4 separate regions of the Homo sapiens genome follow, and all the other regions are reported to be linked to region 2. Evidence: microRNA targets listed by miRTarBase, many of them from high-throughput screens and not tested one by one. Region 2 holds a microRNA gene; each other region holds the end of a gene's coding sequence.

Region 1 (3,105 bases), not on the chromosome of region 2:
TGATGCTGGGTTCTCTAATGCTGCCTTGTGCTTTTCCGCAGATGTCATGTGGCCTGTGTTTTGGACCGTGGTTCGTACCTATGCTCCTTATGTCACATTCCCTGTTGCCTTCGTGGTCGGGGCTGTGGGTTACCACCTGGAATGGTTCATCAGGGGAAAGGACCCCCAGCCCGTGGAGGAGGAAAAGAGCATCTCAGAGCGCCGGGAGGATCGCAAGCTGGATGAGCTTCTAGGCAAGGACCACACGCAGGTGGTGAGCCTTAAGGACAAGCTAGAATTTGCCCCGAAAGCTGTGCTGAACAGAAACCGCCCAGAGAAGAATTAATGGAGGACACAGGGCCCTATGGTCCTACTGTGGGTGGTGACTTGTCCTGCTACCATGTTGACAGAGCCCCAGAACCCACATCTAATTGGCTTTGTTGCTTATTCTGGCCCTTCCCACACCACACAGCCACACAAATACTGGCTGCTCCTTGATGGCCAGGCAGACCCAGCAGCAGCCGAGGGGCCAGTGAAGAGGAAGGCCGCATCTGTTGTGTGGTGGCCACAAGCACTCAGGCATCTGAGTTTACTGGTGCACTGCTGGGAGGAGAGTTATGAGATGAACATTGGCTGTCAATCTCTGTGGGCAGGCGGTTTGGCCTCTAGTGGGAATGGCTGGGATTTGGGCGTTGCCTTTAGGAGGGATACCTGCATGTCTAGTTCCAGTCTGCACTGGAAAGAATTCAAATATGCACCTGGCTCCCTTCACTATTTTGCCCTATCCTTTGTGCTCATTCTTACTGAAATCTGTCTTGTCAGCTCAGGAATGGGATTCCCCCAGGAAGGAAAGCACTTTTCTGTTCTGGGAAGCCCAGACTGTTCACTTTGGGGCAGGGACGAACATGTGCCTCGTGAATTTGCTTGAAAACAGTCACCATCTTCTACCCCCATCACTGTATAGTGAAAAACCTGATTAAAGTGGTATCTGAGAACCATAATGATCGAATCTTATCATCCAGGTGGTATTTGGGGGTCTTCTTAGGAGTTAGGCAAGTACAGGCATTTTAGAGCAGGATAACATTGGTATTAAAGGGTGCCAAGGAGCCCTGGAAACTGCTTTACTAGTGCGGTTGCACTGAACCCTGGAGGCACAGATTCCCAGGAACCTTTTTACCATTATTACAATTGGCTGCAGCACCTTCAAGTCTAAATGGAGGTAGACCTCACATACACACACATAGACGCCTTTCCCTATAAAAGTATATACGCACATTCAAGAAAATTTGGTAGGGATTTTAAAAAGGTCACCCATGTTCCCAGCTCGTTAATAACAACCGTTAACATTTTGTTGTCTTTTACTAATTCTCTGCATAGGTTTTAGAGATAGTTATCATTACTGTACATTTAATTTTATATACTTTTCTCACTATTATCATTTTCCCATTTTACATGGTCATCATAATTGGTTTTTTGGAGACAGGGTCTCACTCTGTCACACAGGCTGGAGTGCAGTACAATTACGGCTCAGTGCAACCTTGACCTCCTGGGCTCAAGTGATCCTCTCACTTCAGCTCCTCAAGTAGATGGGACTACAGGAGTATGCCACCATGCCCAGCTAATTTTTTTATTTTTTTGTAGAACCAGGTCTCACTATGTTGCCCAGGCTAGTCTCAAACTCCTGGGCTCAAGTGATCCTCCGGCCTTGGCCTGTAGTTTCTTTTTTCTTTTTTTTTGGAGATGGACTCTCATTCTGTCACCCGGGCTGGAGTGCAGTGGCGTGATCTTGGCTGACTGCAACTTCTGCCTCCTGGGTTCAAGCGATTCTCCTACCTCAGCTTCCTAAGTAGCTGGGATTACAGGCGTGCGCCATCGTGCCTGGCTAGTTTTTGTGTTTTTAGTAAAGACAGGGGTTTCACCATCTTGGCCAGGCTGGTCTCGAACTCCTGACCTCAAGCGATCCCATCTGCCTCGGCCTCCCAAAGTGCTGGGATTACAGGTGTGAGGCACCGTGCCTGGCAGTCTGTAGTTTTTTTTTGTTGTTGTTGTTGTTGTTGTTTTAAATATGGAGTCTCGCTGTATTGCCCAGGCTGGAGTGCAGTGGCGCGATCTTGGTTCACTGCAACCTCCACCTCTTGGGTTCAAGCGATTCTCCTGCCTCAGCCTCCTGAGTAGCTGGGATTACAGGTGTGCGCCGCTACGCCTGGCTAATTTTTGTATTTTTAGTAGAGACAGGGTTTCACCATGTTGGTCAGGCTGGTCTCAAACTTCTGACCTTGTGATCTGCCTGCCTTGGCCTCCTAAAGTGCTGGGATTACAGGCGTGAGCCACCGTGCCTGGCTGTAGTTGTTTATAATAGCAACATAATTGTCTATCAAGTGGGAGTATGACATAAGTTTATCCTGGACAATTTCCATATTGCTGGACATTTGAATTGTTTCTGGTTGGTCACTCGTTTAGATACTGCAACGAATATCTTATATGAAGCTTTTCCTGCGTTTTGGAATAAACAGTAAAAATAGTAAATGTCATTTTGGATGAAATGGGATAAATGAGCAGTTTTGAGGATCTCATGCATAACACCAAATGTCTTTCCAAAAGGGCTCTAGGAGTTTCTACTAAATCTTACCACTGAAGACGTTGCTGGTAAGGCTGTGAGGGGAGTAAAAGCAGAGAGCAGGAAGAAGCATAAGAAGCTGTTGCCTCTTGAAGCCTACTGATGTTTAACTAAAGTCAGCACAGGGCAGTAGTGAGCATTTGATGAATTGATCTGCCTCTAAAAGGGAGTGGGTATTGGCCCTGCTTCTTAGGTTCTCTCTCGTGAGGCCTGATGGTGTCCACAGGTGGGTGAGGGTGGAGTTCCTGAACAGTTAGAGGGGCCAGCTGTGAAGAGGTGCCAGCTGGAGGTGCCTTCCAGGACCTGGTGGTGGCCTGAGAGGAGGGAGCAGGTTGAGTCGTTGGCTTCTTCTAAGGCTCCCTGAGGCCTAGTGGGAATGCGGAAATGAGCTGCTGTTGCTTCCCAGGGAACAAATCGGATGGAACTTGGGAAGAGACTGTCAGCTACCAAGTAAGGAGATTTCTGGTTCTGGCTGCAGGTTCTGGCTGATGAGCAGGCCTTATCGGCAC
Region 2 (3,105 bases):
GCAGGTACTTGGCACACCTGGCACACTTGTAGCTGCCCCGAGAGGAGCTCCTGGGACCTCTACTTCCCCTCCAACCCCTCTGCCCATGCCAGTGAAACCCCTGCAGGCTGAGGGGGCAAATGAAGTGGGGTTTAAATACTGGAGATGGAGGCAGACCTGGGGCCAGATGTTCTCTGTGCCCCTCTTCACCCTCAGGTTGGAGAGCAGTGACGGGGATGGGGCCTGGTGCCCCGCAGGGTCGGTGTTTCCCAAGGAGGAGGAGTACTTGCAGGTGGATCTACAACGACTGCACCTGGTGGCTCTGGTGGGCACCCAGGGACGGCATGCCGGGGGCCTGGGCAAGGAGTTCTCCCGGAGCTACCGGCTGCGTTACTCCCGGGATGGTCGCCGCTGGATGGGCTGGAAGGACCGCTGGGGTCAGGAGGTGAGACTGGCAGGGGCAGCACCCAGAGGAGGTTGGCTCTCCTCACTTCCAGCTGTACTTTAAACACCACCTATACGCTGACGACTCTCCAGTTTATATCATCTCCAGACTAAGCCTCTCAGCTGAGCTCCAAACAATATTGTAAACCTGGCCACCTTTTGGATTTCTCCACTTAGATGTCTTTTTTTTTTTTTCTAATAGATGGGGTCTTGCTGTGTTGCCCAGGCTGGTCTTGAACTCCTGGGCTCAGTGATCCTCCCACCTTAGCCTCCCAAAGTGCTGGGATTACAAGCACTGTAGCCAGCCACCTAGATGTCTAATAGGCATCTCAAACGTACGTTTAACTTCCCAAGCTGAATTTGATTCCCATTCCCAGCCTAAACCTGCTCCTCCCCTGGCATTCTCCAGCTCAGGAAGTGGTATCACCATTGCCTGGTTGCCTAGGCTATAAGTTAAGATGATATCCTTGATTCCTTTTTTTCTCTCACCTCCTTCCAAAGCATCAGCAGCCCCGTCTGTTCTACCTCCATAGTGTTCCTGAGTCCAGTCACTCCTCACCACTCCACCTCTACTGCCCTAGGCCACCTGCCCGCCATCTCCAGCTTAGATGAGTGCAGTAGATGCCAAACGCGTCTCCCTGCTTCTGCCCTTTTCTGCCTGGAGTCAAATCTCCACCTGGGGGGGCGGCATCCAGTGGACCTTAGAGCATGTAAATCAGATACGTCACACCTAGCTGACACCCCCATGCTGGCTTTCCACTCTGCCAGAACAAAAGCTGAGTCCCTAGCTGGTGCAGGATGCTCAGCCTGACCTGGCTCCTGCCTGCATCACTTGTTTCTTGGCGCCTCCTTGGCCACGCTGCCTTTCTTCTTGTTGCTGGAACAAGCCAGGGCTCGTTCCCACAGCTTCTGGACATTTTCTCTGTGCCTGCAAAGCTCCTCCCCTAAATAACCACAGGCTCTCCCTCACTCCATTCAGTTCTCTGCCAGGTGTCACCTCCTTAGAGAGCCTTTTCTGGCCACCCACCTCACTGCTCTGTCCATACTTCCTGCCTCTTGTTCTTCGCAGCTGTTTTCCCTGCTGGGATCTCAGTCCTACAAGGGTGGGGAGTGACGTTCACCACTGAGAACGCGCCTGGCACAGAGCGGGCACTCAGCCAACTTCTGCTGAATGAACAGAGGGAATGGGCTGAAATGAAGGGGAAGCTGAGGCAGGGGTGCAGGGCTGTGAGGATTGGGGAGAATCTGGGCACAATGGGATGATAGGCTTGGAGACAAATGGATGGAGCCAGGCAAGGAGAAGAGGGCAGCTGAGCCTGAAGTCTGAGGATGGAACATCAGAGCTGCGACAGAGCCAGAGGTCTCAGCTGCAGATCTTCATTTCACCCATGCCTGGCTGCGCCCCACAGTGCTGTGTGCTCGGTGCCACCCCTCATGGGTCTCTAAGTGGCCACTGTGGGCTGGGCCAGGGAGCAGCTGGTGGGTGGGAAGTAAGATCTGACCTGGACTCCATCCCACCCACCCCCTGTTTCCTGGCCCACAGGTGATCTCAGGCAATGAGGACCCTGAGGGAGTGGTGCTGAAGGACCTTGGGCCCCCCATGGTTGCCCGACTGGTTCGCTTCTACCCCCGGGCTGACCGGGTCATGAGCGTCTGTCTGCGGGTAGAGCTCTATGGCTGCCTCTGGAGGGGTGAGTGGCTCAGCTTCCTGGGAATCTGTTTCCTGAGCAGGGGACTGGAGGGTGGGGAGTGTGGAGAATGGGCATCCAGGATCCCTTCTCCTGCTGGGAAGCTGTCACTCTGAGGAGGGGGCTAGCCAGCATTGTCTCCTCCATGCCAATGAGCCAGTGGAGAGATACAAGAAGGGACCTGAAACCTGCCCAGGCCTGATGCAGGGATGGGGGATGGAGCCTTAGTGCCTCTGACCCCCATCCTCTCACCCTGCCCCAGATGGACTCCTGTCTTACACCGCCCCTGTGGGGCAGACAATGTATTTATCTGAGGCCGTGTACCTCAACGACTCCACCTATGACGGACATACCGTGGGCGGGTAAGAAAGGCCCCTGCAGGATATGGAGTTTGGGGTGGGAGGGAGGACTGTGTGTGTGTGTGTGTGTGTGTGTGTGTGAGAGTGTGTGTGTGTAGGGGGGCTGGTAAGTAGGGTGGGGAGTGAGATGGAAGAGCTGAGAAGAGGGATGGGTTAGGTGGGGCCTCAAAGGGTAGCACTAGGGTGACCACTAGCCCGTATGACACTGTATGAAAAAGGCACCCCTTTGCTAACACACATTGTTGGAAATTGCTGCAATAAATATACACATCATAGATTGAAATGGTGCCCCTTAGAGGTGGTGCCTTTGTGCTGGATGTGACCTGCAAGGTACCTGTAGTGCTGGGGTGGGGTGGAGAGAGGAGAAGGGCCAGCTGCATGAGTGTGAGGTGGGATGGGAATGGGACTAGTGGATGGGAGCCAGGCTGGCCATGCCACTGTGCCGGAGGGTGGCGGAGCAGAATGCCTGGATGTCAAGACCCTCTTCCCTTCCAACCTCCTCTTCCTTGGTCCCCTCTTCTCCAGACTGCAGTATGGGGGTCTGGGCCAGCTGGCAGATGGTGTGGTGGGGCTGGATGACTTTAGGAAGAGTCAGGAGCTGCGGGTCTGGCCAGGCTATGACTATGTGGGATGGA
Region 3 (3,098 bases), not on the chromosome of region 2:
GTATAATTTTGAATATTCCGTGGTTTTCAACATGGTACTTTGGATAATGATCGCCTTGGCCTTGGCTGTGATTATCACCTCTTACAATATTTGGAACATGGATCCTGGATATGATAGCATCATTTATAGGATGACAAACCAGAAGATTCGAATGGATTGAATGTTACCTGTGCCAGAATTAGAAAAGGGGGTTGGAAATTGGCTGTTTTGTTAAAATATATCTTTTAGTGTGCTTTAAAGTAGATAGTATACTTTACATTTATAAAAAAAAATCAAATTTTGTTCTTTATTTTGTGTGTGCCTGTGATGTTTTTCTAGAGTGAATTATAGTATTGACGTGAATCCCACTGTGGTATAGATTCCATAATATGCTTGAATATTATGATATAGCCATTTAATAACATTGATTTCATTCTGTTTAATGAATTTGGAAATATGCACTGAAAGAAATGTAAAACATTTAGAATAGCTCGTGTTATGGAAAAAAGTGCACTGAATTTATTAGACAAACTTACGAATGCTTAACTTCTTTACACAGCATAGGTGAAAATCATATTTGGGCTATTGTATACTATGAACAATTTGTAAATGTCTTAATTTGATGTAAATAACTCTGAAACAAGAGAAAAGGTTTTTAACTTAGAGTAGCCCTAAAATATGGATGTGCTTATATAATCGCTTAGTTTTGGAACTGTATCTGAGTAACAGAGGACAGCTGTTTTTTAACCCTCTTCTGCAAGTTTGTTGACCTACATGGGCTAATATGGATACTAAAAATACTACATTGATCTAAGAAGAAACTAGCCTTGTGGAGTATATAGATGCTTTTCATTATACACACAAAAATCCCTGAGGGACATTTTGAGGCATGAATATAAAACATTTTTATTTCAGTAACTTTTCCCCCTGTGTAAGTTACTATGGTTTGTGGTACAACTTCATTCTATAGAATATTAAGTGGAAGTGGGTGAATTCTACTTTTTATGTTGGAGTGGACCAATGTCTATCAAGAGTGACAAATAAAGTTAATGATGATTCCAAATTTGTGTCATTGCAGTACTAAATCTATTTTATATTGTAAAAACCTAACAAAACAGGCTTTTCTTTCATCAGGATTGGCTGTTTTGTTGTACAGATAATTTCATGGTGTTTCTTTTACACTTGTTTATTCTCGCTGCCTCCTGAGATTTAGTACTAATGTAAGGAAGGCATTTTAATTACCATTCTTGTTACTGAATTTATATAGGATATATGAGAAATGCATACTTTATGTAGGAAAGGGTTACATTTTTCTATAGCTTTTTTTTTTTTAAATTAAAAACATTTTAGAGACCAGTCTTGCTAGGTTGCCAGGCTGAACTCCTGGCCTCCAGTGATCCTCCTACCTCAGCCTCCCCAGTAGCTGGGATTACAGGTGTGCACCACTGCACCCGGCCCTGTAGCATTTTTAAAGATGAATAAGCAACTAATTGGTTAGAATATGAAGGACTGTCTCAGGTAAAGGTTTAAGGTAACAATTTGTTTTCTTTTTCAAAAAACAGGATCTTTAACTTCATTATTATATAGCAAGATTATTTTAGTATGAGCATTGTAGCCCTGACCCTGGGATCCTTCCTTGTATTTAGTATTAGCTGTTTCTGCATCTTCTTTGCAAAGATCATCAAATTATTTATACATAGCATTGAGTTTGGCAGGTTTGAGAAGGTAGGGTTTATTTAGTTGTCAATTACTGCAAGATGCCCTTGACAATTACAGTTTCAAACCCCCATAGAGTGAAGGAAATGTTGGTTTTCTTTTTGCCTCTCATTGAAGTATAAATAATAGGGAAACTGATACTCAGCTTCACAGGGAAGAAAAACTACATTGTTCTAAAATCACTCTTCCATCCCTACTTCCTGCCAGAGTGATGGGGGTGAGGGTTTTCAGCTGTTTATCACCAAAACAGTTCCCACTCTGACCCCATGGAACGCAACACTGCCTAAGTGTAGGGAGCAGGAACCTATCATGCGTCAGGGTGGTTAGAATCCATTTGTCTTTCACAACTTTCTTATATAAACATTGCCGGAGAAGTTAGATTGTTATGATTAAATATGAAATAAACCAATGCCTTTTTAATTTAAAACTGATGAGACTTTAAGTTCTAGGGGAAGAAAAAAAAATTAATTACATGACAGCACTAATCCATATAGGGTAAATGGCATCAGCATCCTTCTATCTATGTTAGGCAGAGAGCAATTCATTAAAATAAATGTTCTGCCAAGATTATTATACCTGTTGCTGATGATTTGCTCTTAAATTAAGTCTAATTTGCTCAGGAACATAAATCACAGTGTCGATTTGTGTGAGAGGCAGAAAAGGCAGACTCATGGCAGACGATTCCACTGACAAAGAGAAAACCCAATCACTTTACATCTCATTGGTGGACTATTCTAGGTTTATAAAATATCTGAGATTCTGCATATGTAGATATTGCTTATGGCCTAATTCTATTAGGAATAATATAGAATTGATTTTTATTTTCTTTGGTTATGTGTTTTTTTGAAGGAATAATCTGAATCCATTTTCATTGATACCAAGTAATATGGAAACTGTAAACTTACTTTTTTTTTTTTTTTGAGACTGTATCTCACTCTGTTTCCCCGGCTGGAGTGCAGTAGTGCAATCACAGCTCTACAGCATCAACCTCCTGGGCTCAAACTATCCACCCACCTCAGCCTCCCAAGTAGATGGGACCACAGGCATGTACCACCACGCCTGGCTTATTTCTTGTAGAGATGGGGTCTCTCTATGTTGCCCAGGCTAGTCTTGAACTCCTGGGCTCAAGCAATCCTCCAGCGTCAGCCTCCCAAAGTGTTGGGATTACAGGCACGAGCCACTGCGCGCCCAGCCTAAACTTAACTTTGTTAGGGGGACGGAGTCTTGCTCTGTCAGCCAGGCTGGAGTGCAGTGGCACAATCTCGGCTCACTGCAACCTCTGCCTCCCAGGTTCAAGTGATTCTCCTGCCTCAGCCTCCCAAGTAGCTGGGATTACAGGAACCTGCCACGATGCCTAGCTAATTTTTGTATTTTTGGTAGAGACAGGGTTTCACCATGTTGGC
Region 4 (3,103 bases), not on the chromosome of region 2:
GAGACCACCTATCACACGCTGGAGGAGGGCGTGGTGGAGTACTGCACGGCTGAGGCGCCCCCACCTCTGCCACCAGAGACCCCTGTGGACATGATGGCCCAGCATGCAGACACGTCGGTCAAGCCGCAAGCGCTCAAGAGCCGCATTGCTCTCAACTCCGCCAAGCTGATACAGGAGCAGCGGGTCACCAACCTGCATGTGAAGGAGATCGCACAGCACCTGGAACAGCAGAACGACCTACTGCAGATGATCCGCCGCTCCCAGGAAGTGCAGGCCTGTGCCCAGGAGCGCCAGGCCCAGGCCATGGAGGGCACACAGGCTGCCCTGAGCGTCCTCATCCAGGTCCTCCGGCCTATGATCAAAGATTTCCGCCGCTACCTGCAGAGCAACACAGCTAACCCGGCCCCCGCCTCTGACCCTGGGCAGGTGGCCCAGAATGGGCAGCCAGACAGCATCATCCAGTGAGGGCAGGGGTCAGGCCAGCCTTCTGCCATGATGGGATGAAAACTCCATGGACTTGTAAGTGGGTCCTGTGATTGGCCTTGGCCTTAGACCGGCCACGTGCACAGCTCCCTCTTTAATAAACGCTTAGGGGTTGCACTGTTTTTGAGAAGAGGAATTTGTTGGGCTCCTGGGACCCAAACTCATACTCCCCCTACTTGAGCTGCCTTGCTAAGATCCAGAAGATTGGTTAGCAGGGGGTCACGTGTGCATGTGATGGGACATGTGTTGTCATGACCCCGGGCTTGTGACATGACCCAGCCTTGGTCTTGGACAACTGTAAGGAACAACACAACGGGCTGTCACTGGGGGCCGTCACCCAGCCTGGGTCTCTACTGAGCTGCCCAACCCCAGGTGCCATCCTTTCGAGTAGGGTAATGTCACTGATGCTGGCAGTTGAGCAATAATATCTTCCTCCTTTGGGAGGTAGTGTGACTGAGGAGGAAACCCCACCCTTTTCTCCTCACTGTGCCTCAGTTCTCAGGGGACTCCAATGACTGTTGTGCTCTCCCCCGACCCCACCCCAGGCACAGCGCAGGCCCTTGTTAGGTAGTGTGCTGGGACGCCTCCGTAATACATGCAGTGTGCAGCCAGTCTGGCTCAGGAATGCTGTGTATGGTGGGGACGGTTTGGCCACTCTCTGGTTTTCAACAGCATCTCTGGGCAGCCCTTTGGTGGTTTGTCCCTAGAGCTTTTGACTCAGGTCAAGCTTTGGATGCTGTAAATTTTTGAGAAAGCCAACTAGTGTGGAAGCTTGCTGCCCCACTGCAGTGGGTCTGAGTGACCTGTTGGCTTTGTGCGGAGGCTTGCATCCAGCCAGTTGTATTTATTCTGTGTGTGAACCCCTCCTAGGAAGGCCTCCAGGAAGGCTGCCCTGTGGCCACACCCATCCTCCTTTCCTCTCTGCTGACTCCACATTTCCAAAATTCAGTGCAAAAAAAGCCCTGCTGAGCATCACATGCTGGACTCTTCCCCTGCCACACCGCTCAGTGCCTTCTGTTCTCTTGAGACTCCCTCTGAGTAGCTGAGTGAATCCAAAGCCATAATTGACCCTGAACGTAGGAGGAGGAAAAGGCGAAGCTGACCTAAGAAGTGGGACCCTGGCCGGGCGAGGTGGCTCAAGTCTGTAATCCCAGCGCTTTGGGAGGCCGAGGCGGGTGGATCACGAGGTCAAGAGATCAAGACCATCCTGGCCAACATGATGAAACCCCGTCTCTACTAAAAACACAAAAATTAGCTGGGCGTGGTGGCACACGCCTGTAGTCCCAGCTACCCGGGAGGCTGAGGCAGGAGAATCGCTTGAACCCAGGAGGCGGAGATTGCAGTGAGCCGAGATTGCACCGCTGCACTCCAGCCTGGCGACAGAGCGAGACTCTGTCTCAAAAAAAAAACAAAGAAAAAACCAAAAAAACAAATGGGACCCTTTGGATTCTATGCTCAGGGAAGAGCAGGCAGAGCCTTGGAGTGCTGAAGGAGGTGCTGTTCCCTGTTCCATCTTTACACTTTCTCTTCTGAGATGTCTGTAAGGATTTTACCCAGATGCCATTTGTCTGTTTCATTTTCAGACTCACCATCAATTACCAAGGCCCTTGCATCTCCCCAGATCGTTTCCCAAGTTTGGCGATTTGCTGTCGGTGCCTCAGCCACATATGACCAATGGTTACAACTCAGGGCTCCAGACCTCAGCTAAAAAGAGAAGACGCTGCCCTCCTGGGCACGAACGTTTAGAATGCTCAACTCCTCTATTGTGACCACAGGAAGGTGGCCCTGAAGATGCACCGAAGACAGCTGGGAGGTGACTGCTGTACTGTCAGCCTCTCTGTGGAGGCATTCGTGCAGTGCCAGCTAAAAGGGAGGTGAAGGGGGATATCGGACCCAGCGAGGGAGTTGCTGGTAGAAGGAAAGCTCTTCTCAGTGTGGCTGGATTAAGAGCAGCCTAGCAGCTTGGGCACCTCCACTCTGTGCGGTCTGATGGCCCCAGCAAGGTCGCTGCAGGGACTTCCTGAGGACTTGGTTTGGTTTTTTTCTGGGGTTGGAAATCTGAGCCAATATTGTGTCTGTTCCATTTGGGTATGAAGAGGAAGTCTGGATCACTTAAACTGACTAGTTATTTCCGGGTCATAATTTTAAATTAAAGACATATCACTTTTTTATACACACATCTCTGTGTCTTTATTGCTTATATATAGAAGAGAACCAGGGACTGGCAGACGATGGCCCACAAACTCAAATCAGGCTCACCACCTATTTTTATAAATAAAATTGTATTGGAACACAGCCACACCCATTCATTTATGAACCTGTGGCTTTTTTTTTTTTTTTTTTTGTACCACCAAAGCAAGAGTTGAGTAGTTACAGAGACATCTGGCCCACAAAGCCAAAAGTGTTTACTCTCTGACCCATTTACAGTAGAAGTCAGTCTATTCCTGGTTTAAGGCAGTGTTTGGGACTCTTAAGAATTACCTGAGGCAGGCCAGGCACTGTGGCTCATGCCTGTAATCCCAGCACTTTGGGAGGCCGAGGTGGGCAGATCACGAGGTCAGGAGTTCGAGACCAGCCTGACCAACATGGTGAAACCCCGTCTCTACTAAAAATACACAAA

What was found. The annotated mature microRNA hsa-miR-4640-3p reads CACCCCCUGUUUCCUGGCCCAC and lies in region 2 at 1,943-1,964, shown strand. An mRNA with a match to its seed (bases 2 to 7 or 8) in the 3' UTR can be bound and repressed. Matches are read on the target gene's strand: a 7mer-m8 pairs with bases 2 to 8, a 7mer-A1 pairs with bases 2 to 7 and ends in A, and an 8mer does both.
Region 1: miRTarBase lists SMIM12 as a target of hsa-miR-4640-3p. The part of its 3' UTR that is shown has no 7-base or 8-base seed match.
Region 3: miRTarBase lists ATP6AP2 as a target of hsa-miR-4640-3p. Seed matches in the 3' UTR shown: 7mer-m8 at 186-192.
Region 4: miRTarBase lists NAIF1 as a target of hsa-miR-4640-3p. Seed matches in the 3' UTR shown: 7mer-m8 at 697-703.

Annotation. Positions count from the first base shown.
Region 1 is chr1:34,852,919-34,856,023 of GRCh38, reverse strand. SMIM12 (small integral membrane protein 12) reads left to right here. Exons shown (of 2, transcript NM_138428.6): 2 at 42-3,105. The coding sequence starts at 47. The coding sequence ends at 325. Among named protein-coding and RNA genes, the nearest start is that of SMIM12, 5.3 kb to the left of the region's middle. RefSeq lists enhancers at 1,503-2,373, 2,798-3,027.
Region 2 is chr6:30,889,007-30,892,111 of GRCh38, forward strand. It overlaps MIR4640 (microRNA 4640), which reads left to right and starts at 1,877; the gene lies at 1,877-1,966. It overlaps DDR1 (discoidin domain receptor tyrosine kinase 1), which reads left to right. Exons shown (of 18, transcript NM_001297654.2): 3 at 1-4; 4 at 196-424; 5 at 1,967-2,114; 6 at 2,374-2,473; 7 at 2,996-3,105.
Region 3 is chrX:40,605,596-40,608,693 of GRCh38, forward strand. ATP6AP2 (ATPase H+ transporting accessory protein 2) reads left to right here. Exons shown (of 9, transcript NM_005765.3): 9 at 1-1,253. The coding sequence ends at 160. Among named protein-coding and RNA genes, the nearest start is that of MPC1L, 16 kb to the right of the region's middle.
Region 4 is chr9:128,060,790-128,063,892 of GRCh38, reverse strand. It overlaps NAIF1 (nuclear apoptosis inducing factor 1), which reads left to right. Exons shown (of 2, transcript NM_197956.4): 2 at 1-2,660. The coding sequence ends at 465. Among named protein-coding and RNA genes, the nearest start is that of NAIF1, 5.0 kb to the left of the region's middle.